Linked DNA regions of Homo sapiens: all the other regions are reported to be linked to region 1. The links are microRNA targets in miRTarBase. Many come from high-throughput screens and were not tested one by one. Region 1 holds a microRNA gene; each other region holds the end of a gene's coding sequence.
Evidence for each region. The annotated mature microRNA hsa-miR-3180-5p reads CUUCCAGACGCUCCGCCCCACGUCG and lies in region 1 at 1,217-1,241, shown strand. An mRNA with a match to its seed (bases 2 to 7 or 8) in the 3' UTR can be bound and repressed. Matches are read on the target gene's strand: a 7mer-m8 pairs with bases 2 to 8, a 7mer-A1 pairs with bases 2 to 7 and ends in A, and an 8mer does both.

Region 2: miRTarBase lists ZNF660 as a target of hsa-miR-3180-5p. Seed matches in the 3' UTR shown: 7mer-m8 at 1,444-1,450, 7mer-A1 at 2,174-2,180 and 8mer at 3,529-3,536.
Region 3: the mRNA of GPR63 is a reported target of hsa-miR-3180-5p. Seed matches in the 3' UTR shown: 7mer-m8 at 979-985 and 7mer-A1 at 1,787-1,793.
Region 4: the mRNA of ZBTB25 is a reported target of hsa-miR-3180-5p. Seed matches in the 3' UTR shown: 7mer-m8 at 813-819.
Region 5: the mRNA of S100A7A is a reported target of hsa-miR-3180-5p. Seed matches in the 3' UTR shown: 7mer-m8 at 3,071-3,077 and 8mer at 3,992-3,999.
Region 6: the mRNA of RBM18 is a reported target of hsa-miR-3180-5p. The part of its 3' UTR that is shown has no 7-base or 8-base seed match.
Region 7: the mRNA of NPAT is a reported target of hsa-miR-3180-5p. Seed matches in the 3' UTR shown: 7mer-m8 at 948-954 and 7mer-m8 at 1,173-1,179.

The regions. Positions count from the first base shown.
Region 1 is chr16:18,399,403-18,403,470 of GRCh38, reverse strand. It overlaps MIR3180-3 (microRNA 3180-3), which reads left to right and starts at 1,200; the gene lies at 1,200-1,293. It overlaps LOC112268172 (a long non-coding RNA gene), which reads right to left and starts at 3,492. Exons shown (of 3, transcript XR_002957900.2): 1 at 3,290-3,492. It also overlaps the pseudogene PKD1P5-LOC105376752 and the pseudogene PKD1P5.
Region 2 is chr3:44,594,553-44,598,620 of GRCh38, forward strand. It overlaps ZNF660 (zinc finger protein 660), which reads left to right. Exons shown (of 3, transcript NM_173658.4): 3 at 1-4,068. The coding sequence ends at 637. All of the region lies in intron 2 of ZNF660-ZNF197 (ZNF660-ZNF197 readthrough), which reads left to right. All of the region lies in intron 2 of ZKSCAN7-AS1 (ZKSCAN7 ZNF cluster antisense RNA 1), which reads right to left. Among named protein-coding and RNA genes, the nearest start is that of ZNF660-ZNF197, 12 kb to the left of the region's middle.
Region 3 is chr6:96,794,997-96,799,064 of GRCh38, reverse strand. It overlaps GPR63 (G protein-coupled receptor 63), which reads left to right. Exons shown (of 2, transcript NM_030784.4): 2 at 1-4,068. The coding sequence ends at 593. Among named protein-coding and RNA genes, the nearest start is that of GPR63, 40 kb to the left of the region's middle.
Region 4 is chr14:64,483,665-64,487,732 of GRCh38, forward strand. It overlaps ZBTB25 (zinc finger and BTB domain containing 25), which reads right to left. Exons shown (of 3, transcript NM_006977.5): 3 at 1-4,068. The coding sequence ends at 3,259. Among named protein-coding and RNA genes, the nearest start is that of ZBTB25, 18 kb to the right of the region's middle.
Region 5 is chr1:153,418,550-153,422,617 of GRCh38, forward strand. S100A7A (S100 calcium binding protein A7A) reads left to right here. Exons shown (of 3, transcript NM_176823.4): 3 at 596-4,068. The coding sequence ends at 760. It also overlaps a transcript of S100A8 not described here. Among named protein-coding and RNA genes, the nearest start is that of S100A7A, 4.1 kb to the left of the region's middle.
Region 6 is chr9:122,238,623-122,242,690 of GRCh38, forward strand. RBM18 (RNA binding motif protein 18) reads right to left here. Exons shown (of 6, transcript NM_033117.4): 6 at 1-3,421. The coding sequence ends at 3,262. Among named protein-coding and RNA genes, the nearest start is that of LHX6, 12 kb to the left of the region's middle.
Region 7 is chr11:108,155,450-108,159,517 of GRCh38, reverse strand. It overlaps NPAT (nuclear protein, coactivator of histone transcription), which reads left to right. Exons shown (of 18, transcript NM_002519.3): 18 at 499-2,303. The coding sequence ends at 576. Among named protein-coding and RNA genes, the nearest start is that of ACAT1, 36 kb to the right of the region's middle.

The DNA.
Region 1 (4,068 bases):
GTGGCTTCCAAGGCCACCTTGGAGACAGAGCTTGGTGGAGCACATGTGGTAGGATTTTTTTTGTTTTTTTGAGACGGAGTCTCACTGTATTGCCCAGTCTGGAGTGCAGTGGTGCAATCTCGGCTCACTGCAACCTCTGCCTCCCAGGTTCAAGCTATTCTCCTGTCTCAGCCTCCCTAGTAGCTGGGACTACAGGCACCTGCCACCACGCCTGGCTAATTTTTGTATTTTTAGTAGAAATGGGATTTCACCTTGTTGGTCAGGTTGGTCTCAAACTCCTGACCTCAGGTGATCCACCCACCTCGGCCTCCCAAAGTGCTGGGATTACAGGCATGAGCCACCACTCCCAGCCAGTTCTTTTTTTCTTTTTTCCATTTTTTTTTTTTCGAGACAGGGTCTTACTCTGTTGCCCAGGCTGGAGTGCAGTGGCACAATCACGGCTCAGCGCAGCCACTGCCTCCTGGGCTCACACGCTCCTCCGGCCTCAGCCTCTCGAGTACCTGGGACTACAAGTGTGAGCCAGTTTGGCTAATTTTGGCTAATTTTTGTAGAAACGGGGTCTCGCCATGTTGGCCAGGCTGGTCTCCAACTCCTGGGCTCAAGGGATCCACCTTCCTCCCCCTCTCAAAGTTCTGGGATTACCGGAGTGACCCACTGTGCCCTGCTGGCAAATTTCTTAAACTGTGCCTCAGTGACCTCATTTAATAAAGGGAATAATTGTAGCACACTTTTTCTAGAGCTGTGAAGATTCAATGGAATAAATAAGGCAATAAATGAATGGATGGGGAATGAAGGATGTGGGTTTCCTCCCTCTTGTCTTTCAATAAGCTCTCACCATCAACCTCCCATTGCCTGTTCTCTCTCTTCCCCCTCTCTCCCTCTGTCTCTCTCTTAGCCAGGAAACCTGGGGTAGGGAGGCTTGGAGCCAGCGGGTGCGTCGGGAGGCTGCGGGTACTGACTGGGGACGCGCACGGAGATTGCGGGAGAAGGATCCACGCCGCGGGAGAAGGATCCATGCCGCGGGAGAAGGATCAGAGTGGAGCCTGTGGCTGCTGCAGGAGGAGGAAGCCGCCGCCTGGCCCACACCACAGGAGAAGGGCGGAGCCAGATGGCACCCTGCCCACCGCTTCCCGCCCACGCACTTTAGCCTGCAGAGGGGCGGAGCGTGAAAAATACCTCGTGCGCCTCGGCCGACTCTACAGTGCGACGGGCGGAGCTTCCAGACGCTCCGCCCCACGTCGCATGCGCCCCGGGAAAGCGTGGGGCGGAGCTTCCGGAGGCCCCGCCCTGCTGCCGACCCTGTGGAGCGGAGGGTGAAGCCTCCGGATGCCAGTCCCTCATCGCTGGCCCGGTCGCGCTGTGGCGAAGGGGGCGGAGCCTGCACCCGCCCCGCCCCCCCTCGCCCCGTCCGCCCTGCGCCGCGCGGGGAGGAGGAGGAGGAGCCGCGGCGGGGCCCGCACTGCAGCGCCAACGTCCGAGCGGGCGGCCGAGCTCCCGGAGCGGCCTGGCCCCGAGCCCCGAGCGGGCGTCGCTCAGCAGCAGGTCGCGGCCGCAGCCCCATCCAGCCCCGCGCCCGCCATGCCGTCCGCCGGCCCCGCCTGAGCCGCGGCCTCCGCGCGCGGGCGGGCCTGGGGACGGCGGGGCCATGCGCGCGCTGCCCTAACGATGCCGCCCGCCGCGCCCGCCCGCCTGGCGCTGGCCCTGGGCCTGGGCCTGTGGCTCGGGGCGCTGGCGGGGGGCCCCGGGCGCGGCTGCGGGCCTTGCGAGCCCCCCTGCCTCTGCGGCCTAGCGCCCGGCGCCGCCTGCCGCGTCAACTGCTCGGGCCGCGGGCCGCGGGCTGCGGACGCTCGGTCCCGCGCTGCGCATCCCCGCGGACGCCACAGCGCTGTGAGTAGCGGGCCCAGCGGCACCCGGGAGAGGCCGCGGGACGGGCGGGCGTGGGCGCGTTCCCTGGCCCGGGACGGGAAGCAGGACGCGGGCCAGGACGCTCCCAGGGCGAGGCTCCGGCGCGGCACAGCGGCCCTGCTAAATAAGGAACGCCTGGAGCCGCGGTTGGCACGGCCCCGGGGAGCCGAAAAACCCCGGGTCTGGAGACAGACGTCCCACCCGGGGGCTCTGCGGACGCCAGCGGGGGCGGGGCGCGGAGGCCGCGCTCAGCTGGGAGGACAAACAGTCGCTAATTGGAGAGGAATTGGGATTCGGCCTGGGGCTGCGGGGTACCCGGAGAGATGGGGATGGCTGTAGGGGGCTGCAGGGAAGAGTTCCAGGAGGTGTCTGGACAAGGATTTGATGGATGTGCAAGAATTGGGCTGATGCTTAGGAAGGGGCGATGAGGTGGGTCCAGAAGAAGGGGGGTGAACGGTGTGAGCAAAGACCGTGAGGCTGGAGGCTGGCCACGGGAGGTGTGAGGGGTAGGGGCAGGGTGGGAGGTGGGCTCGCGGGTGGGCTGGGGTCATGAAGGGCCTCAGGCGCTCTGCTATTGGGTTCCAAGGCTATCCTGAGAACAGGGGTGAGGGCGGATTGCCGTGGGGGGTTAAAGCCTTGTCATGTTCGCTTTCGGGAGATAAAAACAACAGGTGGCCTTTATGGAGACGCTGCCCAGAGCCAGGTCTGTGCCAGGCTCCTGTTGGGGGTCGTCATGCGGAATCCTGACTCTGACCATCCGAGGCATAGGGACCGTGGAGATTTGCATTTCACAGATGAGGAAACAGGTTTGGAGAGGTGACACGACCTGTCCCAGGCATCACAGCCAGGACAGGACCTGTCCCAGGCATCACAGCCGGGATGTGCATAGCAGGGGTTTGGAACTATGAGGTGCCCAGGACCCAGGGTTGGATTGAAAAGGGCGCAGGGGACTAAGATAAGCAGACAGTTGTCCCCAGCGCTGGGGAGAGTCTTGGTACCAGTCTGATGCCTTGTATTTCCCAGGCTCCAGGCTCCTCGCCGGGACAGTGTCTCTTTGGGTGCGTGCTGGATCCCTGGGGGACGTGGCACATCCCCAGGCTTTCTAAACATTGGATGGGTTCTGGCATTTGGTTTTGTAACGTTTCTGGGTCACTCCCGCCTGTGGCCACCCTTCCTTAGGGGAGCCGTGTGTCCTTGGGGCTTTGCTGGGTGGTCTCGAGGGTGGGAGAAGAATGGGTTCTCCTGGACCAATGGAGCCCGTGCCCCTCGGGGCCACATTGCTCCTGCGCTCCCTGACTGCGGACGCGTGTGTCTCGCGGCTGTCTCTGTGGAGATGGCCTCCTCCTGCCTGGCAACAGCACCCACAGAATTGCATCAGACCTACCCCACCCGTTGTTTGTGATGCTGTAGCTGAGGGCTCCTCTGTCTGCCAGGCCGGTCACTGGGGACTCTGTCCAGGTCCTGGTGGTTCCTGCTTCCCAGCACCTGATGGTGTCCATGAGAGCAGCCCCTCGGGAGCTGTCCGGGAGAGAAGGGCGCTGGTGGCTGCTGAGCGGAGAGCAAGGCCCGTGTTCTCCAGGCCCTTGGCACAGCAGTGGAACCCCCGCCCCTGCCTTGTGTTGTCCTCTTAGGCTCTGGTCCTGGGGTTTGGAGGAGGGGGACCCTGGGGGTTGGTGGCCTGTCCCAGCCTGAGCTGGCAAGATTCCGAATGCCAGGCCCCTCAAGTGTGCAACAGGGCACAGGGTGACCTCGTGGGCAGGTGGGTGCTGTTCTGTACACACCTGGGGCCGCCGCTGGGAGAGTTCTGGAAGGTGGGGTGAGGGGACCCATGGGAAACTAGGGCCCTAGGAAGGATGTGAAGGCCCTGGCTGGCCCCCCAGGCCACCCTCTGTGCTGTGGGGCAGCCCAGCCATTTTGCTGTCTACCCTGCAAACTCCTCCTCGGGGAGACGGCTGGGTTTTCCCCAGGGAAGAGGGGTCAAGCTGGGAGAGGTGAAGGACACAGATCACAGCTGCTGGCAGGTGTTCAAGGGTCCAGGAGCGTTGCTGTCTGGGTGTCACCAGTAGCCTTCCTGGGGGGCTCACGCAGGTGCCTCTCCACTTGTGGCTCCCTGGCTGCTGAAGCTCAGCAGGGACAGCTGTGTCCAGTTCCAGGTGGAGGACA
Region 2 (4,068 bases), not on the chromosome of region 1:
TCTTATTCGGCACCAGGGAATCCACAGTGGGGAGAAAACTTATGAATGTAAAGAGTGTGGGAAAGCCTTTAGTCGGAGTTCGGGCCTTATATCACATCACAGAGTTCACACCGGAGAGAAGCCCTATTCTTGTATTGAGTGTGGGAAAGCCTTTAGCCGTAGTTCAAACCTTACTCAACATCAGCGAATGCACAGAGGAAAAAAAGTTTACAAATGTAAGGAGTGTGGGAAAACATGTGGTTCTAATACAAAGATTATGGACCATCAGAGAATTCACACTGGAGAGAAGCCTTATGAATGTGATGAGTGTGGAAAAACTTTCATCTTAAGGAAAACTCTTAATGAACACCAGAGACTTCATCGTAGAGAGAAACCTTACAAATGTAATGAGTGTGGGAAGGCTTTTACTTCTAATCGAAACCTTGTTGATCATCAGAGAGTTCACACTGGAGAGAAACCCTATAAATGTAATGAATGTGGGAAAACCTTCAGGCAGACTTCTCAAGTTATTCTACACTTGAGAACCCACACTAAGGAGAAACCCTATAAATGTAGTGAGTGTGGGAAAGCCTATCGGTATAGTTCACAGCTTATTCAACACCAGAGGAAACATAATGAGGAGAAAGAAACCTCATAAATAACAAATATTGTGGGTAGTAGGGCTGACTGCTGCTTTTCTAAAAAGTAGTTCTTTAGTATCAACTTTAATTCTACTTCTAAGAATCATACTCTACTTCTAAGAAAATAATTAGAAGTAGACAAAGATTAATGAAAGGGATGTTCATGACAGCATCATATACGACTGAAAGAAGAAAACTAGATTTTCAACATTACAGGGTTGAAATGAATGATGAGCTATCCATATGATGGTTCTGCAGCCATTGCAAACATTTTTAAAGACAATTTAATGCCATGGGGAAATGATTGGATAAGACGGAAGATAATGACATACAATCCAAAATTTAAAAAAATATTTTTGCATAGGAAAAATTGAGAAGGAAGTAAACCAAAATGTTAACAGTGATCATCTCTGGGCGATAGGATTATAGGTGATTTCTATTTTCTTCTGTATACTTTTCTATGCTTTCTAGATTATCTACATGAGAATATACTAATTTTATATGCAAGAAAAAAAGCACAGTATTTTTTAAATGCAATGAAGACGTGCTTATTTTCACTCAGCAGTGTTATGAAAGGCACGTAGTATATAGAGCCCAAAGCCCTGGGATTGCACCCTGACACTGGCATTTAGCAGCAGTGGAACCGCGAGCAAGTCCCTTCCTTTTAGAGCGTGTTTCCTGTTAAGTAAAATCATAAACACCGATCCTTTGTCCTTTTTAGTTTTAAGACAAGCTGACTTTAGAGTTGTCAACAAAATATATAATAACACTGTTAGGTTAAAAGAACACAGCAAAAATTCACTGAACCCTCCTTTCCCACAGTTCTGGAAGGATCTGCAGATGATGGAGAACTACCTAGGCTTCATCTTTTCAACATATGTCTACACAACCAGAAAAAAATGAAATTGAAACAACTGTAGACTCAAAAACTTCAGATACAGTCACCAGTTAATATAAAACTAGTGGGAGACTCTGCCTTCACATGGTATATAGAGTTTAAAGGCTAAAAGTACAAACTTTGGGGTTGGAGATATCCATGTTCTAACCCCAGTTCTACCATGAACTAGCTTGTCAGTTTTGGACAAGTCACTTAACTGCTCTGAGCCTCAGACCTGTGTGTAAAAAAGGAACAATTACCTACCTTACAAGGTTGTTGTGAGGATTAAGTGAGTAATGCATGAAATATATGATAAGCCAGACACGTGGTAAATGATAAAATCTTAAGTATAGGACATTGTAGCAGTGTTTCTAAACACTTTAGGGAGAGTGATTAAAGAGAATTTTTGTGTAAGGTAGTACTTAGGATATTTTCAGATGTATTGAACAGAATACCAAGTACTAGCAGCCTAGACCTTAAGAACATTGATTGATTGCTTAAGGGGAATCTAGAGGTAAGCAGTGCTATGTTTGGTTTGGCAACTCAGCACTTCATCACACTTCTCTCTTAACTCCATAATTTTCAGCATGTTGACTTTCATTTTTCATAACCTCATGGTGGCAAGACAGTGGCCACAGCTGCATCTTGCCTTCACACAACTCCTTCAGATTGGGAACTGGAAAAGGAGCTGAGGCTTTCTCATCTGGTTTCTTCCTTTTGTCACTGAGAAAAATCTTTCCCTGAAGAAGGGACGGAGAGGTGTTGAGCAATCAATACAACAGATGTTTTCTATCTTCCTCTGCCTTTCTTTATGACCAGTCCTCCTTGAAGGTCTTAGCCCATCTTCCACCAATATTTAAAACATTTTAAGTGCTTAGCTCAAAGTCACTCTGAAACACTTAGAATCTCCCTATTTTTAACTCAGCCATTCCTCTGTGTATACAGTGAATCCCTAAGCCCACTGTTATCTGTCTTATGCACATAGTGAATTAGTGTTTGGGGAATTTTTGATAATATGTTATTTAGTTCTCCCTCTATTATACAAGAAAATTGAGTGTCATTGAGGTTAGGTGACTGGCTAGTAAGTTGTCGGAGCCAGGATTTGAGCTCAGATCTGACTTTGAAATTCATGCTTTCTTCATTATACCAAAGTGCCTCTGCCCACCATGGTGGTTCTGTATGTGAGTGGAAGACCAGTTGGCGTTTTCCCAGGTAGCTGCCTCTATGAAAGGTGATTGTATCTAACAATTATTTGATATTTGACCATGGTTTTATAGGGAAGATGTTATCAGTGTTCTGTGAATGGGGTTTATGGCCTATCTCTGTACCTCATAATTTAGTTTTAAGGTATATATATTTCTTTCTTGCTGTTACCGGAAAGAAAGAAGTGAAGGGTGAAGGTTGTATATTTGTGTGAAAAAAAATTACTGATTTTGTCCTATTTTGATAGGATAGTGGTTTGCACATAATTTGTGATATAATAGTCCTTTGCATGGTCATTCCAAGCAGGGTTTGGAAGGCCTGGAACAGATTTGTAGCATTCATGGACAAGCCTGGTCTATCATTCCTGAGCAGAATTGTTGATGCTTTATATATTGCTGAGCAGATATTCTCTGACCAAAACATTTTTTCACCACCATGTCATAGTGCCTAAAACTCTTTATTTAGATAGGCTTTCTTTTTTGTCTTAGAAGACTATGATCTTCAAGAGTATATCTCAAGGAAGGATATGATGCCATCTCATAACCAGAGAACTGAATATAGGAGAGCTTCATATTTCTTGCCCCAGGCAGGCGAGGATTATAGTCTCTTGAGGAGGCCATCACCCATCTTCTAGGCTAATACCTGCCTTGAGCTGTAGGAATAAACACTTGACAGTGGGTTCCTGCATCCTTTCAGATAAACATTCAGCTATAATTTGAACTGATCACCCACCTTTCTCCGGGAGTCTCCCAGGGTTACCAACTTTTACCTCAGTCAGAGTTTAGGCATGCAGCTCTTACCATCCTTTCAAGCCCTTTCATAATACCCTCTGGAAACCAGGAACTGTCTCTTTTAATGTGCTTTCTTTTTCTTTCTTTTCTTTTCTTTTCTTTTTTTTTTTTTTTTGAGATGGAATCTCGCACTGTCGCCCATGCTGGAGTGCAGTGGCGTGATCTCAGCTCTCAGCTCACCGCAACCTCCAGCTCCCAGGTTCAAGCAATTCTCCTGCCTCAGCCTCCTGAGTAGCTGAGATTACAGGCACCTGCCACCACACCCAGCTAATTTTTGTATTTTTAATAGAGATAGGGTTTCACCATGTTGGCCAGGCTGATCTCGAACTCCTGACCTCACAAGATCCACCTGCCTCGGCCTCCCAAAGTGCTGGGATTATAGGCATGAGCCACTGCACCTGGCTTTATTTATATGTGTATTTATTTATTTATTTATTTATGAGATGGAGTGTTGCTCTTGTCGCCCAGGCTGGAGTGCAATGGCGTGATATCGGCTCACTGCAACCTCTGCCTCCTGGGTTCAAGCGATTCTCCTGTCTCAGCCTCCCAAGTAGCTGGGATTACAGGTACCTGCCAC
Region 3 (4,068 bases), not on the chromosome of region 1:
CTTCCCGAGCTCCCCAGTGTGTGTTTGGGTACACAACCAATCCAGGCTACCAGGCTTATGTGATTTTGATTTCTCTCATTTCTTTCTTCATACCCTTCCTGGTAATACTGTACTCATTTATGGGCATACTCAACACCCTTCGGCACAATGCCTTGAGGATCCATAGCTACCCTGAAGGTATATGCCTCAGCCAGGCCAGCAAACTGGGTCTCATGAGTCTGCAGAGACCTTTCCAGATGAGCATTGACATGGGCTTTAAAACACGTGCCTTCACCACTATTTTGATTCTCTTTGCTGTCTTCATTGTCTGCTGGGCCCCATTCACCACTTACAGCCTTGTGGCAACATTCAGTAAGCACTTTTACTATCAGCACAACTTTTTTGAGATTAGCACCTGGCTACTGTGGCTCTGCTACCTCAAGTCTGCATTGAATCCGCTGATCTACTACTGGAGGATTAAGAAATTCCATGATGCTTGCCTGGACATGATGCCTAAGTCCTTCAAGTTTTTGCCGCAGCTCCCTGGTCACACAAAGCGACGGATACGTCCTAGTGCTGTCTATGTGTGTGGGGAACATCGGACGGTGGTGTGAATATTGGAACTGGCTGACATTTTGGGTGATGCTTGTTCTTTATTGACATTGAATTCTCTTTCTCATAGCCTCTCCACTTTATTTTTTTTTATAGGGTTTGTGTATGTATGTGTGTGAGCAGTGTAAAGAAAGAATGGTAATTATAGTTCTGTTACCAAGAATAAATAATAGGAAAGTGATTACAAATATTACCTCCAGGGTTCAATAGAAATCCTCAATTTAGGGTGAGGAGACTTTTTTTTGGTTTTGGGGTTTTTCCTTGATTGATTTTGTTTTCATAGTGGGAATCAGGATTGTGCTTTATTGAGCCTGCAGTTACATTGAATTGTAGGTGTTTCGTGTGCTGCTAAGGTATGCTTATTTGAGTTTATCAAGACTTTTTTTTTCTGGAAGACACTGCTGCTTTTACCATCACATTGGAGCCAAACATCTCAATCAATATATATTTAGTTTTATTTTAAAAACTAACCCAGGAAGGTTAGCGACATTTTAAGGGTCATTACTATTTACTTTGGTGCACTTTAAGAGATAATGTACAAATTAATTCAGTCTTATTTTTCAGAATTGTTTTTATACATGATATGTGCTTTAGGAAATGTGCATTATCATTTATGGGAAGATAGTTTTAAGAAATGTTTTATCTGCATGTACAGTTGTAAAAGAGAACATAAAATGTAGATACTTTTCTAAGCACAATAGCAACTCTTCAAGCAATAGCGCAAAATCTAGGAGACAGGATCCTTGCAAATTTAAAAGGTGAATGTAGTGAGGGGGATGGCAAGTGGCTGGTACAGGCTGTGGTGATTCCTTTTACTCAAGGGTTTTTGTGGAGTATAGGGAGAAGGGGTTGATATTTATGGACACCTATGTGTCAGGCACTGTGCATCATTTTATCCTTACAGGATGTTGTGAGGTAGGTATTATTGTTTTCATTTTTACAGGTGAAGAAAGCAGGTCTCAGAGGGACTAAAATCCTGCCCAAGGTTAGTGGTAGAGCTGGGATCCAAAAATCTGTCAGAATCCTGAGACTGCGCTGTTCCACTGTGCCACGCAGACAGTTCATTCAGTTTAGATGTCACATAGTCAAGAGGGAACTCTATGCATCCTTTAATTTTTTAGACTATGATATTCTTTTTAAAAATTAGCCTTTATTTTCTAACTACCAAAAGAAATATGAAAGCATTACAGAAACACTGGAAAATAGAAAAGAAAAAATAAAATCACTTACAACCACTTTTTGTTTTTTGGAGTCTCGCTTTGCCACCCAGGCTGGAGTGCAGTGGTGTGATCATGGCTCATTGTAGCCTCAACCTCCCAGGCTCAGGTAATCCTCCTGTCTCAGCCTCCTGAATAGCTGGAACCACACACACACACGCACACACAGGTGTGTGCCACCACACCCAGCTATTTTTTTGTATTTTCTTTTGTAAAGACAAGGTTTCACCATGTTGCCCAGGCTGGTCTCAGAGTCCTGAGCTCAAACGATCTGCCTGCCTTGGCCTCCCAAAATGTTGGGATTACAGGCATGAGCCACCACATCTGACCTACAACCACTTTTTAATGTGAGACTTAAAAATCTTAGATAAATAAGGCTGTGAAGCAAAACCAGTGATTTTTTTTTTTGTTTTTGATTTGCAAAACAAGTGACTGACAATTATTGAGAAATTAAAGATAGCTATGTGTAGGTCTTGCCCCTGCGGGTTTGGAGGTTTCCAGTTGTCCATCTGTGTTAGTTGTAAGTGTTCTGGGCAGAATAGTATTGTTGCCCCAATGCTTGCCCTAGCAGAGCTGGAGTTTGTGAACGTGCTCAGATGTGTGTCTCCTACAAAGAAGGGAAAATGAACCCTCGTCTGAGCCTAGAACAAGTTTTAATAGGGCATGTCTGACATTTCAAATTGTTTTTCTCTTGCTGACAGTCTGCCCCCAGGTGCATCTAGGGCCTTGGTCAGCTTCTCTGTTACCAGTGGCTCACTTTATAAAACAGCCCACAGGGATAAGGGCTGAAAATATAGCCACTTGGCTACATCATTGACTAATTAAGTAAGTTAACTGTGGATTTATAGCATCTTTTCAGGATGTTAGTGTTTTGTGAGCCAGTGGAAAAAATAAGCTTCTATTTCTTCATTTGTAAAACCAGAGAGTTGGATTAGATGAATCTCTAACGTCCTGTCCAGCTCAAATGTGCTTTCCTCTATACTAGGGTATAGATTTTTGAAGAGCCTAGCTGACTTCAGCATCACCTCACCCTTTGGTCTCCAGTATTACTTCTTTACATTTTACTTCATTAGCTATTTCTTAATATTAAATGTCTGAAGAGTGTGGCACTGTATCAGGAGTTGGGGCATTGAAAGGTTGAAGACATCATGAAATATCTGGGAAACTCTGCTCTTAAGGAAATTGCACCGATGTTGGAACTCATTGTCCAGTTAAAGAGCTCTTTGGGGACTCAAGCATATTATTCAACATGTTGTTTTGGGATTATCTTCAAATGATAGTCACCTACCTCTTTCATTTCTAATTTTTATTCACAGGTAAAATTGTTTTTGTCCATAGGGATTTTATAGGACATAAGCACTGTAGTAGATACTAGTAGCATTTTGAAGTGTATTATGCTCTCCATTTTCCATATAAACTAGATTTCAAGCAGATATTGATAAGGACATTTTTTATTAGACTTTTCTCTGAGGAAAGTCAGCATGATCTGTATTCATCTTACATATTGATAGGTCATGAAGACTCCTTTTTGGCTGGAGGTGAAACTGAGCTTTGTTTTCTTTGTTCCTGTTTTATGGGCAGTCTTTAGGTACTTTCATGCTGCTTAATAGGCAGTGCCTCATTTGGTGAGAGCTCTGGAGTGCCTGCCGAGACGCTCCCTGTTTGTGAACAAAGATTATGAAGGGGTCTTTGTGAGAATTCAGCAGCAACACTGAACAGCAGTTCTTTTTACACTGGATTATCTTGATCTGATGAGAGTTTACAAATCATTTTGAACATTTTTATTATGTATACATTGTGAAAGCTTTAAAAATAAGTACTATGGAGCACCTTTGAGAAACGTAGGTGCAAAATCATATGTTGCCTATTCCCCCATATTTTCTTGAGGCAGGGAAAGATACCACTACTAATTCTCACTGCTTACAGGCATAATCAGAAATGGTTTTTTGTTTGCCTGTTTTTCCTTCTGGCTAGTAAGAAGCGTAAAAGAGATAATGAAATATTTGTGGTCAAAAGAAAGATGCAAGGGAAATTCCAAATAGTATGGAGTAACATTATTTAAACTTTAATACATGTTTAAGCATCCCCAAGGGAGCTTGTTAACAGTACAGATTCCTGGGCCTCCAGAGGGTCTGTGGTTGAGCCCAGGAATGTGCATTTTTATTTTATTGAGCACTCTGCCTGACTCTGGCTCAGGTAGTCCCTGGGAAACTCTTCAGGAAACATTCCTGTAGAAAATATATCTATTTAAATATCATCT
Region 4 (4,068 bases), not on the chromosome of region 1:
CATATGACAGTTACTTTAAAAAATGCCTGCAGACCCGGGCGCGGTGGCTCATGCCTGTAATCTGAGGCAGGCAGATCATGAGGTCAGGAGCTCGAGACCATCCTGGCCAACATGGTGAAACCCTGTCTCTACTAAAAATACAAAAATTAGCTGGGCATGGTGGCACATGCTCAGGAGGCTGAGGCAGGAGAATCACTTGAATTCGAGAGGCGGAGGTTGCAGTGAGCTGAGATTGCACCACTGCACTCCAGCCTGGCGACACAGCACGACTGTCTCAAAAAAAAAAAAAAAAAAAAAAAAAAAAGCCTGCAGAATAAATGAAAACAACAATAACAAAAACTGGGGGTCAGTCCCACACCACTATTCACTGCATCTCTGGAATTCAGCTTTTGGGATTTTTTTTCTATAAAATGAAGTTGATATTTTCCCACTTCCTAAACAGAATGAATGTTTTAAGGAACAAGGAAAGAGCATTTGCTTTGAATTTCTAATATTAAAAGGAACTATAAGAATAGAAATACAGTTAACCACTATTTTCTTAACTCTCAACGAACAGATATATTTCTGCTTTAAATGAGTGTTGTCTATCACGGCCAATCAGCTGCTAGCAAACTCTTACCATTTATCCAAACTCTGCCCTGAGGCACTTGCTGTCTTATCCAACCAACCATGTACAACTCTACCTCCACCCTTTAGCTATATACAAGGATTTCCTGTGTCAAAGAATAATGAGTGGGCCTGGCACGGTGGCTCACACCTGTAATCCCAGCACTATGGGAGGCCGAGGCTGGTGCATGACCTGAGGTCAGGAGTTCCAGACCAGCCTGACCAAGATGGTGAAACCCTGTCTCTGCTAAAAACACAAAATTAGCTGGGTATGGTGGTGCATGCCTGTAATCCCAAGCTACTTGGGAGGCTAAGGCAGGAGAATCGCTTGAACCCAGGCAGCAGAGATTGCAGTGAGCCGAGATCACGCCATTGCACTCCAGCCTGGGCAACAAGGGTGAAACTCCATCTTAAAAAAAAATTAAATTAAAAAAATAATAATAATGAGTAGGCAAACAGGGAAGAATATAGAGGAGAAAAATTATCTTAATAAGAACAATAGAATTTGAATTGAAGAAGGCTAGGAAATATATCTTAACTAGCCTAAAATACAAAAAATCAATGTTAATACTTGTGTTCTTCCAATGAGATGATATTTTTGAGGGCAGTACAAATTTCAATAGTTGCTTAAGTGAATTGGTAGAAAAAAGTTTAAGATTAGACAAAGTTCTGACCCCAAAGAACATACATTTGTTTTAATTACTCCCAATACAATTGATCTTATCAAGTTAGATGTGCTCTCAACACACATCAGTCTTAACCATAGGAGCCTTTACTCACTTGTTTAAGGCAGAAACTCAACTGCCTTACACAATATCCAGTAGCTTTCTTCATTCAATCCTCAAGAAAAACTTACCACTTTGTAATTTACCTAAACTGTTTACCTAGAGAAAACCTTTGTGTCCTTAGAATTAGCTGGATTACTCTTTGAGCTCCCTCCTGATTGGACGCTGATGCTGTTGAATGTGTCAGGAAACGTCCTCAGAAGTGGAGGGAGCTCAAGAGTTTTGTAAGTGGTTAAATTCTAAGGCTCACAAACCAAATTTTTTAGATGTATTCAAATGCCCGTGAAGCTTAGAATTTAACAAGAGGGCAAAAAAAGATGAGTCTGTTTTATTATCCTTGACTATGCGGGGTTTGAAATTTAAACATTTCAGAAACAATTTAGATCTATCCTTTGTGGTGAAGCTTAACCAGCTATTTCCCAGGTATATAGAGCCGGGGAATCTGTTATTTCTTTCATCAACTTTAATTTTCCTGGGGTTTTAGCTTTGTAAGTGTCACCATTATAAAAGAGAGTTAAGTTGATTTATAGAGGAAAAGCTAACATCATGGATCTTAAATGTAGTTATAGAACACTGAATGTATCCACTTTGCTGGTTTTATGGATCAGGAAAAAAGTGAAAACTGTGCCACTGAAAAATTACTTTTTCAGTGATTTTTAGAAAATTAAAATCAACCCAGGAAGCCCCAAAAATCCTGACGCTGAGGGTAGAAACATGATTTATATTTTATCATCATTCTCTTTCAACTCATGTAAACCTCTGGTCATAAAATCTCAAATTACTTTTTAAGGTGTCTAAGAAAACACTCTAGACCAAGTTAACAACCCTGGGGTTTTTAGTCAATGCAGTTCTAGCTCAGTCTCTGTCTCTGCATGCTTATTTATCTATGTGTGTATATCTTACTGTTTCTTAAATATTTTTTAATGTCTCTCTGACTCTTCTCCCTTTAACTGTTTTTTTTATTAAAAATGAGATATACCACATCTGTAATCCCAGCACTTTGGGAGGCCAAGGCGGGCAGATGACGAGGTCAGGAGATCGAGACCATCCTGGCTAACACGGTGAAACCCCGTCTCTACTAAAAAAATACAAAAAAATTAGCTGGGCGTGGTGGCGGGCGCCTGTAGTCCCAGCTGCTCAGGAGGCTGAGGCAGGAGAATGGCGTGAACCCGGGAGGCGGAGCTTGCAGTCAGCCGAGATCGCGCCACTGCGCCCCAGCCTGGGCGACACAGAGAGACTCTGTCTCAAAAAAAAAAAGAGGTATACTCAATGTTAAAAAGTAAAGAGAAGCCATGTAGGTAAGATGTTGTGGAGCTAGTAGTTAAAAAATAAAACTACTCATGATTTGGTATATCTTAAAATAAATTTTTATACATTATAACATATGTATAACATACAGTTATGCATTAAAGTAACTATTAATTTCCTATATGGAAGAAAATATTTAAAAATAATCCTGGTAGGAGTGAATTCATGTGAAATGTAGGCAGAAGTGATAGTTTAGAATATGCTTTAAAACAGATTTCATTTACTTTATATTCAATTTGATTTTACTGATTCTATAACTGGAAAAACTTAGAATTCTATAAATAACTATTTAAGGTTTCCATATTTCTACATTGATTTCTGATTTCTAAATTGTTATTTCGTTTGTGAAAAGTTCACAGTAGTAATTGAATGTTACATTTTAATAGCCACATATTAATATGTCTTATGAGAAGATCTAATATATACAACCTTAAAACCATGGATAAGCTGTGAAGAAAAAAAGTCAATGAAACTTGAGGAGGAAAATAATTTATGAATTAAAAATGCCACGCAAATTTTCTTTTTCAGAATTGGTATAAAAATTCTGAAAGAGAAGCTGCTACTCAACTAGGATAGTATCCACATTTTCTTGTGTGAGCTCTGACTCTAAGGCACAAGGCAAGTCTAAGTGTTCTTGTGACAAGCGAGAACTTTTCAGGGAGACATCAGACCAGCTGTCACAGTATGGCTGAAATCTCTGGGCCAATGCATTACCAAACCTTTGGCATCGGTTATATCTGTAAGATTTACCTTTGTGTGTATACATGTGTTCCAACAATTGGCTCTTTCGAGGGAATTTATGACCACAGATGGTACAGCTCATTTTTCTTTTCCTTGAAAAAGAAAAATTACAGTTTAATTCTACTGGCTCTGTGTCTTTGGAGATCAAAGATACTTGACTGATCTGCAAAGGCTCTGTGGTACCCCGGTTGGTGTGGTCTGGCTGCTGTTCATTCTCCTTAACAATGAAGGAGCTGAGCCTGCGGCATTCAAGGGCCTCGCTGTTTTCATTAAGGGGATGCACTTCACCAAGGTCATTACTTTCCAGAATGGAAGCAGGGACACCGAATGGCAGGGATCCAGACACATGTGTATGGAGATGTTGCCTTAGGTTACTACGGGAATCAAAACGTTCCCCACAGTAATGGCATAAGTGTATTTTGACACTGTTTTCAGTAAAAGTGGGGCCTGTCACCTCTGATGAGGGTGAGGGGTGGCTCTGGGAGATCACAGATTCTGGGTCACATCTCTCCTGCTTGATGGAAACTGGGGGCTTCTGGTGCTCCTCCAGGGCCTGGGTGGCAGGACAGGCCCTCTGCTGGTCTGCAGTGCCATCATCCAGACCAATAGCAAGAGACAACTGCAACTG
Region 5 (4,068 bases), not on the chromosome of region 1:
AAGGCCCCACATCAACATCCCTGAGATTACTGGGAAAGCACTAGAAGTTCCATTGCTAGTAGAAATCAATAGCCCTCTTTGCAATAAAGAAAACTCATTGGCAAATCTGAAAAAACCTGTGGGCTACTAGGTACCAAAGGGTCTAGATGACCAAGAGTAGGGAACCCAGAAGATGAGTTTGGTGGAAAAGGAGAAGAAAGGAGAGGAGGTCAGAGAAAGAAGAGAACAAAGCATGAGGGCCAATTTTGAGGCCCTGGGGTAGAACTAAGGTAGGCAGTGCCCTTAAATGCTGGGAACAGGCAAGATTGAGGCTGGGGCAGGGGACTGCTCTCCCCAAGGTCACTTAACAGAGTGCCTCGGGACAGGACCTGCCTCCCATCCTGAGGTGTGAGACAAAAAGTCTCCTTAGAGAACTCCAGGGATAACACTCACGTCCTCACCCCAACTTCACCCACTCACCCTGTGCTCTCAGCCCCACGACCATGCCTGTGCAGATCTAGGTACTTGTCTGTATCTCTGCCTCCTCCTCTCCCCTCCCAGCCCAAAACTTGTTTGTGATTGAATTTTTCTATTTTGTATGTTTTTCTCTTCACAGGACAAAAAGGGCATACATTACCTCGCCACTGTCTTTGAGAAAAAGGACAAGAATGAGGATAAGAAGATTGATTTTTCTGAGTTTCTGTCCTTGCTGGGAGACATAGCCGCAGACTACCACAAGCAGAGCCATGGAGCGGCGCCCTGTTCTGGGGGAAGCCAGTGATCCAGCCCCACCAAGGGGCCTCCAGAGACCCCAGGAACAATAAGTGTCTCCTCCCACCAGACACTTGCCTTATTTCTTCTTCTCTTTGGTGACCTACATTGTCAAAACTACCAATTCCAGGTTAACTTTGTTGGAGAATTTCCCCCACCCCCATCCAGTGGGTCACCCAGGAGTAATGTCCCTCCAGCAACGTTCCCCCTATGGCCTCCAGCAGAGCTGATCTGCCTCTCACACAGGTCCTGGTGTCTGCCTCTGCACCGTTCCCTAAATGCAGCCACCTTGGCAGGTTCCAGGTGGAAGTTGGTAGAAGGCCCCTGCCAGGTCACAGCAATGCTCTCCTTGTCAAGGCATGGACCAGGGTCATTCAGACACATTCAGATACTGCACTGAGAAGGAGCTGGCATCTCTCAGTGTGCTCCTGCCCTCCCACTCCTGCCCCAGCTGTTCTCCAGGGCTTGGGGAAACAGAAACCACTCACATAGGGATTCCTGGATGGCTTCAGGTTCAGCGCCCTTGGGGCTATGAATGGGAGGCTCAGCAGTGCCCTGAGGATGGGCTTCCTTGTCCTGTGGCCTCTGCTCCAGGGGCAGTGTCCTTTCCCTGTGCTGTGTGCTTGTGTGCATGTGCCTATGTGGGTGACCCTGTGGAAGTGAGAAGGAGTCACTGTGATGCTTAGCTGTCCTAAATGATGGTTTGCTCAATGCCAGGACTGGGTTTCTGGTGATGAATGAATATTCCAGATTTTGAGGAGCTCTAAGTGGTCCAGGAGTCCAAGTAAGCAGTCTGGCTGGAATAAGGCAGCATCACGGAAATTCTGTAAGGACTGACACAGAGAGCTCATGCTGACTGTGATGAGAAATTGCAGCACCTCTATCTCGCAGGTAATGGAGTAGTTTGTTATTGGTAGTCTACTCCAGGCCAGGCAGTGTGTTATGGGCTGAGGATGCAGAAACAGGCAGGACACAGTGCTGTCCTAGCAGTGCACTGGCGGGTCTCTCCATGCAGGCCACAACACAGGGTCAGTGTTCACCTGGTGTCACTTCCAGGCAATGTTCTGTGCAGCCGCTCTTAGTATTCTTCCTTGAGGCTCACATCATGTGTCCCTATCACTCTTACTACTCTGGTCAGTCTCCAGCTAACCTCTCAATCAGGCAAACATTCTTCTTGGAGGAATCAGGCAAACATCTCAAAAATTCTCTTTCCATCCTACCAGCAGCAGTGTGTAAGATGGGCTATTTGTTCTTTGGAATGACTGCTCCACTCCACACTCACACCTCTATTCACAGACCAGCATCTCCTCTCCTTATCAGGAACATTCCTTCCTGAACATATTCTGCACCTCGTCAGCCTTCAGGACTGATCTGCCATTTTCACCTCTAAATCCCCATGTCTGACCATTAGTTTTCTTCTCTTTCCTTCTCTCCCTTTCTCATTCTCATTCCACCTGTTCTTGGAACTCACGGAGACCTACAGTCCCTGGGCTTTCATTTTCTCCTCCCAGCCCCCTGCTGCCTTCTCTATGCAGCCTGCCCTCCATCATCCACCCCAGAATTGCTCTCTTTCCTCTCTTAGCTCTGTTGCCCACTTTCCTTGGGCCATACCTTCCCTGCAGATCTCCAGCCCAGAACCATCTTCCCCTGTTGTCCTCCTCTCTCCTCCACCGGGACTGCTGGTCACTGCTTAGAACCGTCATGCCAGGGTCCCAAAAGTGTGGGTGCCTGACTTCCTCTCTGTGCAGCACTCTCTGAATCCCTCCTATTCACCTTGCTGCTGTTATTCCCCGAATGCGCAACATACCCCCCATCAATATATCTCAGTATTTCATGTCTCAATACCAATCTTTTAAACTACTGCCTCTACCAGAAATGTCTTTTAATACTTCTTCTGTCTCATTAACATTACATTTCAAGGCTGAGCTTTAATGTCAGTGTCTCTTAGACATTCAGAGGGTGAACCACCATCCCTTCACCCCAAAGAAATGATCTCTGCTTCATTTGTGCCTCCCTCACCATGACCCCACTCTTACCATAGTGGCTACATTACTTCAGATTCCCCTAATGTCTTTCCAGCCAGACTTGGAATCATGGAGGGAAAACATTGTTACCTCGGATCTCCTGGTTACCCAGCACATAGTAGTACTGGATTCCAGCTCATAATAAGTACTCTATATCATTTTTCAATATAAAATGTATTTGTGCAAATTCTAGTCAATACTACTTTATGTAAACAGCAGTGTAAAATCCAAAAACTTCCAGTCCTGGAGGCAGGTTGTGCAGCTTAGGGGAGGACCCCAGAATCTGGACCCCAGAGTCTGGAAGCAGGCCAGAAAGGATAAGGCAAATGACTGAACAGTTCCCTCAGGACTCACGTACTGATCTCCCAAAAGAAGAGAGGGTCTCCCTGGGGTGGGGTTGCTGGACCTTCAATCCATCGCTACAGTCCAGAAGGCAATTGGCCACTCCTAATGTGGGCCTGCCCTCCCTTTATTTTTCCAGTTCTTATTTCACCTGATAATATTCCGTCCAATTGGCAATGGCACATAAAAATTAGGATGGAGTGTGTGGACAAATACTTCTTCATCTTCTTGTCTAGGTTTTAGAAATCACCTTCTCAAGGGAGCCTTGTCTAATGTTCCTGAGACTATTTCACACTCTCCATGCTTATGTCAATGCAGGACTCATCACATCTATTCGGATATTCTGTTTACACACCCATGTCATCCCAGAGAGGTGATCACAGGGCAGGGACACATGTGTGGCATACAGTTCCTAGTTAAGATCCCAAATCCTGAGATATTGCTGATTTGCTATGGCAGGTCGTCAAGAGAACTGTGTCATTCCAAACTCACCAAGGTGGCTTATAGAACAGAAGCAGATGGATATGAAGAGGAGAGGGGACCAGACCATCTCCGCAACCACAGCCCAGAGCTCCAGTCACCAGATAGAAAATTGATTTGATTTCATCCAATATTCCTTCGAAAGAGTGTCAAGGAATAGGGTGGGGCAATGTGTCATTCTGCATTGGAAGGAGGACATTTTAGAGCAAGGCCTAAGGGCACAGGTATTAGTGTCATATTGATCAGAATTCAACCTTTGTTCTAACACATACTAGAGCAAGAATTTACTTGATTTGGAATAATTAATAGCTACTGGACATTATATTGGTACTAAAGAGAAAGAATACTTGACAGCTCTATGCCCACACTCACATTACAGCTGATGTGAAAGAGATTCTGGAAATCCAAATGTTCCCCAGAAATTCTGATATCAAAACATTCCAATAACTTTTTTTTTTCAGGCGCAGTCTCA
Region 6 (4,068 bases), not on the chromosome of region 1:
AACAGTAGGCTATAGGGTCAGACACGTAGTGAAGGACAGGTCATTAGGGCCTTACAGATCTTTCAATTTTTTCTAGGCTGTGATGGAAAGCCACAAAGAAGAGAATCACATTTTAAAATAATTTTTTTAAAAATTGCTTTGGCTACTGTGTGGAAAACGGACCCTAAAGAATCAATAGCAGAGGCAGGGAGATAATTAGGAAGGTATTGTAATAGTCCAGGGAAGAGATGATGGTGGCTTTAAGAAAAATGGTGGTAGTGTTGGAGGTGGTGAGATGGCTGGATTCAAGAGGCATTTGGAAGGTAGAGTTGACAGGATTTGTTGAAGAACTAGATAGGAGCTGGAGAGAAAAAGAGAAAACAGGGATAAGCATGCTGGGACTAAATCATATTTTAGGAACAAATGATTACATATAGGAAATGTTTGACATTTAATTTATAAGGCAAGAATTACTCCTGTTCTTTTATGTAGTAGTATAAAAGAATCACAGATATATTTGTTGATTCAGAAACTGTGCATATCTTAATAAACAAGAGACAGAGCTGCAGAATACCTGGTTTCATACAACTTGTGCAACTGATTTTTGACCTGTTTTGTTTTTGTTTTTTTTGAGACGGTGTCTCACTCTGTTGCCCAGGCTGGAGTGCAGTGGCACAATCTCGGCTCACTGGAACCTCTACCTCCTGGGTTCAAGCGATTCTTGTGCCTCAGCTGACATGCTTTGAAAAATCTTTCCTCATGTGATACTCCTCCCCAGTACTAAGATACCAATTATAGAAAATCAACTGGTTAGGATTACATTTTGCATTTGATAAAATAGGAATTGAGATGAAGAAAATAGTTCATACGTCTCTCCTCAGTATTTCCTTCAATTCTTCACTCTTGTATATAAATCAAAATTATAAGTGACATAATTTTAGCAAACCAAAATAACCAGTAAACCAAAGAATAATTTTACTTAAAGTACAGACAACCTCCTAACAAAGAGTTGACCAAGTTAACACCTGAAATTTAAAAACCTTTCATCAGACTGCTTTCAGCATATTTAGGATACATACATTTCTTCTTTTGAAATCTCTACCACGAGAGACTAAACACAGTACGATACTTGCAGAGATTTCCATTAACAACTTCTTTTCAAATAGTGACATTTGCAATGGAAACAGCTGGTCTCTATTCTCATCTCTAACAACAGAGGTAGGCAGGCATAAAGGGTAAAGAGAGTTGCCTCTCAGTTTGACTCTCTAGCCAGAACCCTCTGCAGAGAAGGCACTTAGAAGAAGCACCCCACGTGGACATGCTGGCCAGAGTCCTGAGTGGAAACAAGCCTGTCAGAGAACTGCAGTCTATGCCAGTAAGTGAACGAGAGAAGATATAACCACACGGACACCGTCTTACATTTATTCACACAGAGGGATAAGAATCAGTACAAATAATAAACAGTGCTTTAAATACAAATAAATAGCTCTGGTTTCTAAAGGAAACAACTCTATATATAATTCTAAGTTTTTTCTAAGTTCCTATTAAAAATAGAAGACTATTTTGCACTATGTAAGTTCTAGTCCACCATAATCCTTTGAAGACTTACGGATAAAATGGTGAATTCTATACTCCAAGAAGTCACCAGAAAAATGGGAGATAATGCTCCTACCTCTCTGAACTATCCCCCAAATAGGAGGAGAGTTACTTGCATCATAGACAGACACAGCTAATACATACAGAAAGTATTTGATGTCTAGAGATATTTAAAAAGATTAACCTTGGGAAAAGTAAAAAGAATTTCCTTAAACCAGTTTTATGAATTCTAAAACCTCCCTCTACTGAAGTTTTGATTCAAATGTCTTAAATTCATTTATACTCATGGGAAGATGTTAAGTTCCTATATTGAAAGCTTCCTCTTGCTAACAACGATAGTGATAAACATTCTGTCATCACCAAGAATGGCACCTGGAGTAACAAAGTGATACATACCTGGTAAAGGAGCAAAGGTGCTGCCCAATTAAACAGTATGTCAAACTTGGCATCAAAATGACCAAAATGTGCTGAAGAAACACATCCCTAAATCTGTTGGTTGACTTATCTTTCTCTATTGTTATATTCAGGATGCTTAGAGTGACAAACATATCTAGAGGCAAGTATGTTCTCCAAGTGAAGAATCATTTCCAAGGCATGCAGTCCTTTAAAACTACCTACCACACAGAGTCATTACAGTCTTGGTGCCACAGTGGCATCTGTTCCATTGACTTTCTGTGCCCACTGCATGTCCTCTCCTCGTCCTGCACAAGATAATGCAATCTCTTCCACTTAGACCGCTACACAATTATTAGAAAATTGTATGTTTGATAGTGACCAATATAGCAATGTTTAGGTTTTCAAAGAAATTTTGCTTTTTCTATTTAGACTGACCATGATATAATTCCAAACAGAACATTCTCATGCTATAAAAACAATCCCATGCAATAAATGTAATTTTAAAAGTCCCATGATAATAGCAACATTTGTTATTATAGAAGGCATGGTTATTTAGATTTGAAAAAAATGGTTGCTATAGAATAAAAGTTCAATTTCCAAATAGAACTTGTGTTGTGGTATAAAATGTTAAATTTGATTCTAGTTTTGTCAACACAAACAATTTTAAGATATACACCATGTTTTCCTAGTTGGGATTTTGAAACAATAAGCATAATTCTTAAACAGATTACTACAACATTTGTTCAAAGAATCAGCTCCTTTTTGCCAAGAACTTTCTCTTTTTCAGTCCAGTTGGAGGGATTGCCGTAGTAAATTCTGGAACAACAGTTCTGAACATGATTTAAAATCTGTCTCTCACTTCCCTCCCTGCCTTTTACTTTTTCTTTATGTTGTAAAAGACACACGAGCGTAGAAAAATGCTCAATTTTTTAATAGATGTTAATATTTTTAGTTTCCTGATTTAAATAATATTTTGTGTATTTGCCTTTTGCTCTGGCACACTATAGAATGTTTCTGGAGTTACAAATCCAAACCAACCAGCCAATTAGAGCATCCCAGGGTTCAAATCACAATTTGGGATACAACGCTATTTATTCTGGATGATGCTCAATTCCATACATAGTTTAGGGAAGAAACATCCATAAGAACATCCAAAAACATTATGTTACCAAATGCTAACATGTGATTGTGCTCCGTTGAATAGTACCATTCACATCTACAAAGTACACAGGCAGACGATTTTAGGTGTGGAGACCAATTTGCTTTTGCTGCTACAGTAATTCACAACCATCATCTTCGAGATTTCCATGCTGTTCTAGAATATGGAGTAGTCCTTTTTTTATCTGGTGGCTTAAAGTAGGAATAAACAGGCGCTGCTGGATACTCTGCATCAGGATTTTCCGCCATCATTTTCAGTTTTGCTTCAATGGCTTTTATCTTTGCAGTGACACTGGAAAAATAATAGCAGAGGATCAGAGTGGGCCTAGGTATATTCAGAAAATAGCTGTACAGTTCCTCTCCTTGAGCCTCTTGGGAATATTAGAGACGCAACAAGATACTAAATTACAGACATTTAAACATTTTATATAAAAGCCAGAAATAACTAATTCTCTCATTCTAAGAAACAGATCAAGTCTGAGCCATCTATTAAGTTTTTAACATAAGCCTGGACATTGTTGGGAGTACTTCATATAGTTCTACATTTAATCCTCAGACGCAGACACTGTTAGCACCTTAATGCTTGGCAGAGAGTAGGTACTAAAAATAATTCTTTTAGAATTGAAAACAACATTATAAGATAGGTTATATTCCTTATTTTGCAGATGATGTAACTGAGGCACAGAAAGGTTCATTTGCCCAATGTTACACAGCAAGTAAACGATAGAGCAGAGATTTGAATACAAACTGACTCAAAAGCCCAGGTTTCACCTGAATCACTGAATAAAAATGGAAAAAAAACATTCTGGAAATCCTATACAATCTCTTTTTACTGATGAATGCATGTTAATAAAAACTATCATTTACAAAGTGCTTACAATGAGCCAGGCACAGTGCATTTTACTTATACTGTTTTTTTTTTTTTAGACAGGGTCTTGT
Region 7 (4,068 bases), not on the chromosome of region 1:
CTGCTTATTGGTCCTGTGATCATGGTTAAGTCTGTAGCCTTTCTGAGTCTCAGCCTCATCACTTGACATGATATTACCAGGTATCTTAGGTTGTGAAGTCTAAATGTAGTATACATAAAGTATCTAGTGTATATTAAGTTTTGGAACTGATAAGTACCTGTAACCCTAAACATCTGTTAGTAAAGCTTTCTAAGCAGTAATAACCACCTAACATAGAAAGCATGTTCTATCTTGTCTCATTCAACATTCAGACACTCTGGATTTGTATCATGTCTTTTGCCATAAACTAACATTCAGGTGCCATTGAAGTATATTTAAGTAACTTTGGGTTTATAAAACTTGTCTCTACTTCTCTATAGAAGTAAAATTCTAATAGACTAAAAAAGTTTGACAATTTTAGTAGTATGTGAAAGAACCCAATATACTGTTTTAGGTGACTTACTAAGAAAGCATTTTGGCCTTGTTTTGAGTTTATTTTTTCTTTCTCTTTTTCAACAGAAAAAGAAGCTTCCCAGTTCATTTCCAGCAGGAATGGATGTAGACAAATTTTTGTTATCATTGCATTATGATGAGTAAACATTCTGGACACATAAGAACAGTAGGTGTTAAAAACTCATATCCCTTAAACTGAGTGTAGGGAATGGGATATTGACAGAATCTGAAAGCATGACCTGCACTTTCATTGTACTGAAACTTCACTTTATATCTAAATCATGCTGTTTCTGAAACAGCTTCCTAGTTTGTAAATAGACTTACTTGGTATATTTTTATTTTGGGAAAAACGTTTGCAGAAATGTAAGTAAAGCCAATCTGCAAAACTGTATAGCTTTGACAATTCCATATTGTAAATACTGTGTAAATCTTGTTGAAATAGAGGTTAAATCAACCTAATGTTCTTACACTGTGTTTTTTGACTTCTTATGATCCCTAATTCTGAGACTTACTCATCTGGAATAGTTTCTCACTTGTTTTGGAGGAAAATGATGCTTATTCTTATAAATTACCTTCAGTAACTATTCAATAAGACATTTAAATACACAATCACTAAGTACTACAAAATAATAACCACCTCAACTGATAGCAAAATATCTAATTAGAAATCAACAGTTTGATGAGTTTTTTTCCTAGAGTGAATACTACCCCTTTCTTATAATTGCTGTAAGTATTATATTTCTGGAATTTCACACTTTACCTACTCTGATCACTCTGTTCTCTTTGTTTTAAAGAGAGAATTTTGTAAACCATTTATTGAATGTTCTGATCTTTCATTTATAACTTAAGATTTTTTACAGAACTTTAAGTGGTTAGACTATTGAGCCATAAAATTTTGGTTTGTAGTAGAGATTTCTCGGTATGTACTTTTCCCCTAAATGCTGGGGATTTAAAGAATTGCACTAATTCATAGAACTCTTTACATTGTAGTGACCAATGCACATATAATTTAAATCTTGTGTTCTATGTGAGAGTTTATGTGGAGGATTATCTTCTGGTGTTGTGTCCATCATAAGATGTAAAAAGAGAAATCATAGTTTTATATTTTAGTTTCTCCTACAATGGGTATGTTAAATAACTATATCTATACTTAGATATAGTGCATTGTCTGTGTCCCTTAAAGTGTTACAAAGAGTTTCTCTCAAAAGGTCCTTAAGGAGAGTGAGAGATGAGAGAGGTGCCTTCTCTGTATTAGACTCACACACATCAGTCCAGTTGAAGAATTGGTTTAAACTTTTAAATGAGAACAGAAATTATAATTAGTACCTGACCAATTGTGCCTAGATATTAAAGTATGTTCTCTTTAGTACTTTCCGTTCAATTAAATATCAGTATATTAGGGATTTTTTTCTACAGGTGTATATTTTGTTGAAGAGTCACTTTCCTCAACCATTTTTTTGTACTGGGCCTTTAAAAAAATAAATCCATCCAACTTTAACACAACATTTCTCAGTGTAGAAATCATGTCTTCTTAATTGCTGAACCTTACTGCAAAAACTTGTGATGTAAGAAATTTGTATGGTGTGGCAGTGGTCTATTCCTAAGGAACTAAATATCATATAGTTAATGTTTATTTAACTCAGCTTGAGACTGTACTACAGTTAGGTTTGAATAAATATTTTCATTAACTTCAAAAGTTTGAATTACTTTACATTGGCAGTCTTGTTTAGAAACTGATTAAATTCCTTTGCAAGTCAGTTCTTTTTGGGAGTTTGTACAATGCTGAAAATCACAGTTTTCTTCTTATTCAATTCATAGTTGTATGTACTAAGCACTGAAAATTCATATACAAATAAAATAAGTTTACTTTCTTCAAGATTCATAGTTAACTAACCAGGAACTGCTAAGTAAAGTTGAAAGATAACTTGTACTTGGAGCTTTTATGTTCAAGAGCAAAATCATATCCCCATTTTACCTTAAAAGTCCACAGGTCCTGAACTTAATTATACTATTGTACCTGGTAACCTATTTGAATACTTAAATGCCCAGTGACTGCATTTCAGGGTTGATGTATACTACAACAATCCATGGCTGTTTTTATAATTACATATGAGGATCCAGTCTGTTGTTTGGATATTACTTAGAGGTTAATGCAGTCAGTGTATGCCAAATCTGAGAAGTGTTGTTAAGTAAAATCTTGTTACAGATTTAGCCCTGGATATATTAGAACTATAGTGTGTTGAAATTGCGCATAAGAAAAGCATCCATCAGCATTCATGCAAAGGCTACATGTCATGACTATTAGGAGTAATTTCAAAAGCATATTACTATATATTCTGCATTCATCCTTTCTCTGGTCATCATCTTTTAGGCTCAGGCCCAGCTTTCTGAAATTACATAAGTTTTGACTTTATTATTAGTTATTTTGCTGCTTCCTTTAAGCAATGGACTCATTGTGTACTTTTTTCTTTTTATAAATGTTATCATTTTGTCATACTTTTGTCTTTTTTTCGTAAATTTGTATCTACATTGTTGAACACATGGTACATATAGCTTCCTAATGCTTTTTGTTTTGTTTTTTTTTTTTTTTTTTGAGAGAGGGTCTCACTCTGTTGCAGGCTGAAGTACAGTGGCACAATCATGGCTCACTGCAGCCTCGATCTCCCAGGCTCAAGTGATCCTCCTACCTCAGCCTCCCGAGTAGCTGGGACCACAGACATATCCCATCGCACCCAGTTTTTTGGGTTTTTTTGGTTTTTTTGTTTTTTGTTTTTTGTTTTTGTCTTTCAGAGAGATGGGGTCTCACTATGTTGCCCAGGATGATATCAAACTCTTGGACTCAAGCAGTCCTCCTGCCTCGGCCTCCCAGGTGTTGGGATTACAGGCATGTGAGCCACCTCATCCAGCTGCTGCTTTTACTTCCAATAATATAAAGCTTTTTCCTTTTTTTAGCTATTACAAACAAAAACAGCAGTGAGCATTTTTATAAACATTTGTTTATGTTAACTATTTCCTTAGAAATTTTAGAGAGTAGAATTACCAAATCAAGAAGTTAGTGTACCTTTTTTTAAGGATCTCAGTACATTTTGCCATATGCTGCTATTAAACTTGCGTCAATTTACATTTCTACCAGCAAATTGTCATTTTTTTGCATAGCATATGCTTATCCATTTCCAGAGGCATATTCACCTATATCATCACCTGTTTCTAGGTTTGTGTTTCCTGATTTGGTAAAATTAGGAGTTAGCTCCTAATCCATTTGTTACTTGTTTTGGTACCTGATATGAAAAAAGGGTCAATGTACATTTTTTCCCTAAATATTTAACTGCTTGACAATTTGTTCACTTGACAATTTAACCACTGCACAGTTTGTTCAGATAAGCTTTCCTTTCCCCTGCTCATTTATTTAAGATGTCTGTCTTATCCTACACTGATTAACAATCTCTTATTCACAATTCTAAAACCCAAAAGGTTCCGGCAACCAATTTTTTTCCCCTAGATTTAACATCAGAACTCATTCTGTGGCAAACCTGACCTGAAATGACACGAGGCTACTTAACAGTCTTTATCTCATTTATAGTAATGTTGATTAGTCTGCTGTTCCAGACTCAACTGGGGGGCATATGGTGCATACAT